2 separate regions of the Homo sapiens genome follow, and region 2 is linked to region 1. Evidence: fine-mapped expression QTL. A gene starts in region 1. The other region holds a variant in brackets. All regions are shown on one strand. Distances are from middle to middle.

Region 1 (2,913 bases):
GGTAGTAGAGCAGGTCCGGCTCCGCGGCCGCGTGGGGCGGCGCCGGGGCCTGCAGCCCCTGATCCTCGTGCTCCGGCTTGGTAGTGGCGGTGAAGGGGCGCATGCTGGTGATCGAAGGAGACGCGATGCGCCACAGCAGGCTCTTGAGCGCCTTGCGGAACTCGCGGCGCACGAGGCAGTAGAGGACGGGGTTGAGGCAGCTGTTGGAGTGCGCTAGGCACACGCTCACAGGGAACGCGTATACCTGGCACAGGAAATACTCCTGGCTGAAGGGCACCGCGTTGAACTTGATGAGGATGCTCCAGGTGGTGAGCGCCTGGTTGGGCAGCCAACACAGGAAGAAGGACAGGACAACGATGGTCACTGATTTGGTGACCTTCGACAGTCTCCGGGCGCTGGCTCCGGTCGGGCGTCCTCCGGCTACCGCGGCCCCTCCTTTGGTCCCCGCCGCGCGGCGGTCGGCGATGAAGCGCACCAGCAGCAGGTAGCACAAGATAATGATGCCCAGCGGCAGCACGAAGCCCAGCAGCACCTTCTGCGAGTGGTAGAGGCCCAGCCAGAACTGCCTGTCGCGGCCCAGCAACTTGTCCGGGAAACGCACCAGGCACAGCTCCTCGCCCATCACCTTGACCGTGGTGGAGAAAATGGCACTGGGCAGCGAGGCCAGCGCGGCCAAAGCCCAGATCCACACACACAGCGCCTTGGCCGAGAAGCAGCAGCTGTCCCCCAGGCTCCGGCCGCAGCAGTCGCCCCGGCCGTGTCCTCGGGTCCGGTGGCTCTTCAGAGCCGAGGCCACCGAATGGTAGCGCGTCACACTCATGGCAGTGAGGAAGAACACGCTGGCGTACATGTTCATGGACGTCACCATGGACACGATCTTACACATGGCCTTGCCGAAGGGCCATTTGAAGTCAAGAGCGTTCTCCACCGCCCAGAAGGGCAGGGTGAGCACAAACTGAAAGTCCGTCAGCGCCAGGTTGGTGACGAAGAGGTTGATAGAGGACTTGCGCCAGCCCTGCATGCTCTTCATCAGGTAGAGAACCAGCAGGTTGCCCGCCAACCCCAGGGCGCACACCACCCAGTACACCACGCTGATGAGAATCCGCACCCGGGCCTCTGTGTCCGCGCTCTCTGCCCCGCCGCTGCCCGGGGGATGTCCTGGCGGCGCGCCGTCCGGCAACTCCAGCCCCAGCTCCCACCACAAGTCCGGAAGCTGCAGCGACGCGTTACCACTCGTGTTGGCCGCCTCCAGAAGGTCCGGGACCAGACTGAAGAGTTCTGCTAGCTTGTCCCCGCCTGCTGCCTTATTCATGGTGGCTATCGTGGCTGCATCGGCCATCTGCATGCGCAGGTACCTCTAGGTCATGTTCTGGGGGACAAGACCTAAGATAACACGGTTTACCCCAGTTTTGTTGCCAGGCTAGCCTGCGGGACGTGCGTGGGAGCTTTCAAAGCAGCTACTGAAGAGAGAGCCCAGGAACTGGGTACTAAGCGCGTCCTGGCGCGCAGCGAACGCCCTGGACGCAGGAGTTGAGCTCAGCGGCTGCTTTGGAGCAGAGTTGAGGAGTGCAGCCCGTAAGGCAAGCACTCGGCGTCCAAGGGTTCTCAGGCCAAGCTCGGAGTCCCTAGGTCCTTATGTACAACGCAGACTTCCCCTCTCCGTGTCCCGCGGTCACTGGGGCACTGGCGCATAACTCCCCCAGCCGCTCAATTGTGCGATTTGGGGCCGCTCGCTCCCTTTCAAATACCTTTATCCGTTTCCTCTGGGACTGCTTGGATGAGGTTTCCGTCCTTGGAGAGAAAGAGATCGTAGAGTTCCATCCACCACGCTCAGCTTCCTGGAGGTCAGTGGGTGTCTGCGTCTCTCCGCGGTTGTCAACTCCGGGTGGGTTGCCAGCGGCTCTCACCAGTTACGGTGGCACTTGCACGGCCAAGGCGGCGGGCCCCAAGGAGCATGCGTAATCCCGGGGCGCCGCGAGGGGCGCTTTCCGAGGTGCTGAACCCAGCCGCGCCCGCGCCGCGAGGGAGAGTTGAGCTGCAGGCAAAGCCCACCCGCCACTCCAGTTTTCCTCTCCAGAGTTTCAGCAGGAAGGGTCTTAAGAGTTTATTTTACAGCTGCAGGAGAAAGTCGGCTTTGACGTGAGTTTCTTCTTCCTTTCTTATTCCCAAACATTATGATTAGAAGTTTTTTTTTTCTTTCTTCCTCACTCCCACTTTTCACCGGAATTATTCCATTTGGTGAGGAATTGTTCTAAAAATATGAGCTATCCTGCTTACTTTCCTTCTTGAAAGTAATAACAGTGGCCTCTTTTCATGCTCAAATGAGATAATGGGTACTTATTGGATACACAAAGGACAGCTCCACCTCCCCTCTTTAATTAGCTGACCACTTACGCAGTACCTGTGTTTGTCAGGATTTTCAAAGGGTCTTCACATGGCAGAAGTCTGGGCTCAAGGGTTGCCCCTACTTTAATGTATTCTGAGAGGTGACACAAAAACAGAGCAAACAACTGATGGTCCTACTTCACAGAAATTAAATGCCCTAAGCCCAAAGCGCTTCAACAAATTGTTTGATCACATACAGGCCACAGTCTCTTTACCTAGATGCAAATAGAATAGAGGATACCACTGGGCTGATCGTGAACCACCAGCCCTCCTATTTCCATTACTGTTAGCATCAGGACTCTTTTTCAGGCGTTTTTCAGACCAATGGAAGTACATTCTAAGGACTCTTCCAAGGGAATGAGTGGAAACCACTTGAATTACTTCTCAAGCTTCAGTCTACATAAATGCCAGGTCAATCGCTCTGGTGTAAATTACACTTTTAGGATTTACTTTAAAATTTTGAAATGTTTTCCTCTTGGTCTGGGACTAAACTGAAACCAAAGTTTCTTAAGCATAATTGTCCTCACT
Region 2 (2,913 bases), 110 kb after region 1:
TTAAACCTTTGCATATACACTTTTCCAAATTTGCTAGTATTAATATTACTATTTTTTATTAACATTTTTTTTAATGGGTGAGTTAGGTGGGCAGCTAATCATTTGCCCTCACTGAGCAGACTATCATTTTTATAAGTTTAAGTTCCATAGCTGAGGAAGAAAAGTTCTTTGCTAAGCACACTATTGTAGACCACATCAAGATGCATAAATTGAATATAAAATTTTCAAAGAGAAGTAGAGAAAACAATTTATTTCTTGACTTCCCTTAGAAATGTCCCTAACTCTTCTCACCAACAAATCATCTAGGAGTATAGAGGTGATGTAGTTTCATCTTCCCTGTTTTTAAGAGGACTTCTTTTTTTAACACCTCCTAACTGCAGTTCACATAACGAAGTCAAATGATGTGTACCGCCTGTTCAACTATGGCAAGGTAGAGATCTGTTCCAGTGTGGAGTTTTCTAAATTCAATTTGCAGAGGTGAGCTGGTGCAGCCACAGCATCTAGACCAAACTTGATTCTAGTTTGGAGATACTCTCTTCTGGTTACATAACTGAGGAACCACATGACAAGAATACTGCTAGCAAGGTCTCCACGGAGGAGTTGAACCAAAACTCATTTGGAAAGAATTGCTTGCCGTTTGGTCTTACTTTCTCTCCCACTTCCAGAGAGTTTTTGTATAATGGATTATTGCTTCTTCCTCTATCGATTTGCAAAGCAAAAACCATACATTTTAGAATTATCACTGGAAATTACCTGATCTTTCTTTGCAAAAACAAAAACAATTCTGATCACATAAAATTTTAAAGCACTACCTTGATCAAATAGTTTTATGCAATTAGTTAAGAGACTCATATGCTTTTTGCCCTTTAGTTCCTTTTGGGTTTGTGTAGCATCTGCAACACAAATCCTGAATGTACAAATTTTCCTCTTTGCCAGAGTTTCTGCAACATTCATGCAGCTCTTACTTACACTCATCCAGCTTTGGCCACTGACTAAATCTCTCATCTAATGACATGATATATCCAGCTCAGTTTTCCTCTCTAAAAAGTTTGAGCCCACAGCACATTCATTGATATCACCAGAATCCTGGAAACTTGCACGTACTCTGTGTTCTTGGATATGGTCAGGAAGATTTGTCTGGAATTTCAGTAGATGACTTGACTCTTCATACATATAAGGGATTTTCAGCATGCTTTGTGGAGCCACCTCCACAAAGAGACCTTCTTAATAGTAAGCTCTTTGCAGAGCAGAAATGATTTTGCAAACTGGATCTTTGCATAAGCATGGGTGAAACCGCTGTAGTTTTCCCGGGAACTCTATTAGGATGTGCTTGCTAGCTACTTTTAACACACAGCTGCCAAATCTTAGTGGCTAATATCAAATTTTATTTCTCATTCACACGATAGCACAGTCTGGGTCAGCATCTCTAGTGGGATGGCTCC[C/T]CTCCAAGAAATAACTCTCCTTCCAGTGGTAGCTCAGGAATCCAAACTCCTTCATCATGTGGCTTTTGCAGTGTTAGAGTCCCTCACTTCCCATTCTGCTGAAAAGCTATCAAAGTATGAGCTGAGAGTCTTCTAGGAGATTTTAGGGGCCAGATTGGGAAGTATCATCCTAGCCTTAACTGTGTAACTTTACAGAGCAAGGGATGCTGGGAAGTTTTCTTGTGTGACCAGAAAGAGGAAATGGGAAGGTGAACACTGAGGCAGTCTCTGCTGCAACACTGTCACGAGCCTTTCTTCCTCACTTGTACTCCTGAACTGATGGCCTGCCCCTAGACAGCCACTCATTAGCACAGCTGACAGGCTCCTCTTCTCAGGCAACCAGCACAGCCCTCTCTTTTTTGCTTTACACTCCTGGTCTGGATGAAGACAGTGACTTAGAGTGGAGGAATCTATTCTTTAGGTATGATTATGTTATGATTGCTCATTTGTTTTTTATTTTTATATGGACTAACTTGCTCCATTGAAGCCTACAAAAATGTAAACCTGGGGGCAATGTCCTCTTCTAAAAATGAACTGACCAAATGATCTTTTAATATAGAAGGGAACCTACCTTCAAGGGCATTCGAGGCCCACAGCTCTTCACTGGGGCTGCTGCAAACCCGTAAGTCCCCCCTTTCTGTTCCCGTCTTCTGGCAGGTGGCTTCACGGGAAGGTAGCATAGAAGTCTAGGGTTGAGTCCTGGGTCAGGCTCAAGCTGTGTGACCTTGAGGTGAAGTAAAATTAACCATATAAAGCCCTAGCCCAGTATCTGGGATTTAGTTCTTAGGATATCTTAGTGCTTGTTATGATCTATTATTATTGAGAAGAAAGAGGTTTTCCTCAGTGAGTGAGTTGGCTCATGACCATGATATGCTTGGGACTCTTTAACAATTTAAAACTTTTTTCTTTTTCAACAAGCTTTATTGGGGTATATAACTGACCAGTAAAAATTGTATATATTCAAGGTGTATAACATGATTTGATACATGTATGCATAGCATAATGATCACCACAGTCCAATTAACCAACATATTCATCAATTATTTTTCTTCACACTCTTCCTTCTCTGCCCCAATTCACCCTATTTTTTATTCTAAAAACGAGACCCCTGTCTCAATCAGATAATTTTTTCTCATTGAAGGAATCTCAAGGGTCATTCTGAAACGGATTAACGAAGACATACAACATATTTTATTTGGATTCCATAATATTGAAAATAAGCCAAAACTGACAGGTAAATATCAGGAGTTTCCACCTAAACATGTGAAGTTTCTTCTTCTTAAAAAAAAAAAAGGCAGAAAATGTTATAGCAATAGGCTTTTATGCCAGCTGGGCCAGAGTCACTGGGGGCTGAGTCTCCCCTCCCTACAGGGTGAGTCCCGTCTACTCACTGTAGCTCCCACCACTACCTCTCTTTTTTTCTGACACTAAG

Alleles and levels. Positions count from the first base shown, and alleles are read on the strand shown. Sizes are in standard deviations (SD) of each study's normalised expression.
With allele T in place of C in region 2, the expression in adrenal gland of the gene that starts at base 1,700 in region 1 is higher (moderate effect, 0.63 SD a copy in GTEx).

Evidence for each region. PIP is the estimated chance that this variant, and not a neighbour inherited with it, causes the effect.
Region 2: its variant is the best candidate, but not a certain one, in a credible set for the expression of RXFP3 in adrenal gland (GTEx, PIP 0.90).

What each region holds. Positions count from the first base shown.
Region 1 is chr5:33,935,173-33,938,085 of GRCh38, reverse strand. RXFP3 (relaxin family peptide receptor 3) reads right to left here and starts at 1,700. Exons shown (of 1, transcript NM_016568.3): 1 at 1-1,700. The coding sequence starts at 1,345.
Region 2 is chr5:33,823,515-33,826,427 of GRCh38, reverse strand. All of the region lies in intron 2 of ADAMTS12 (ADAM metallopeptidase with thrombospondin type 1 motif 12), which reads left to right. Among named protein-coding and RNA genes, the nearest start is that of ADAMTS12, 67 kb to the left of the region's middle. The variant C/T (reference allele first, on the strand shown) is at 1,443.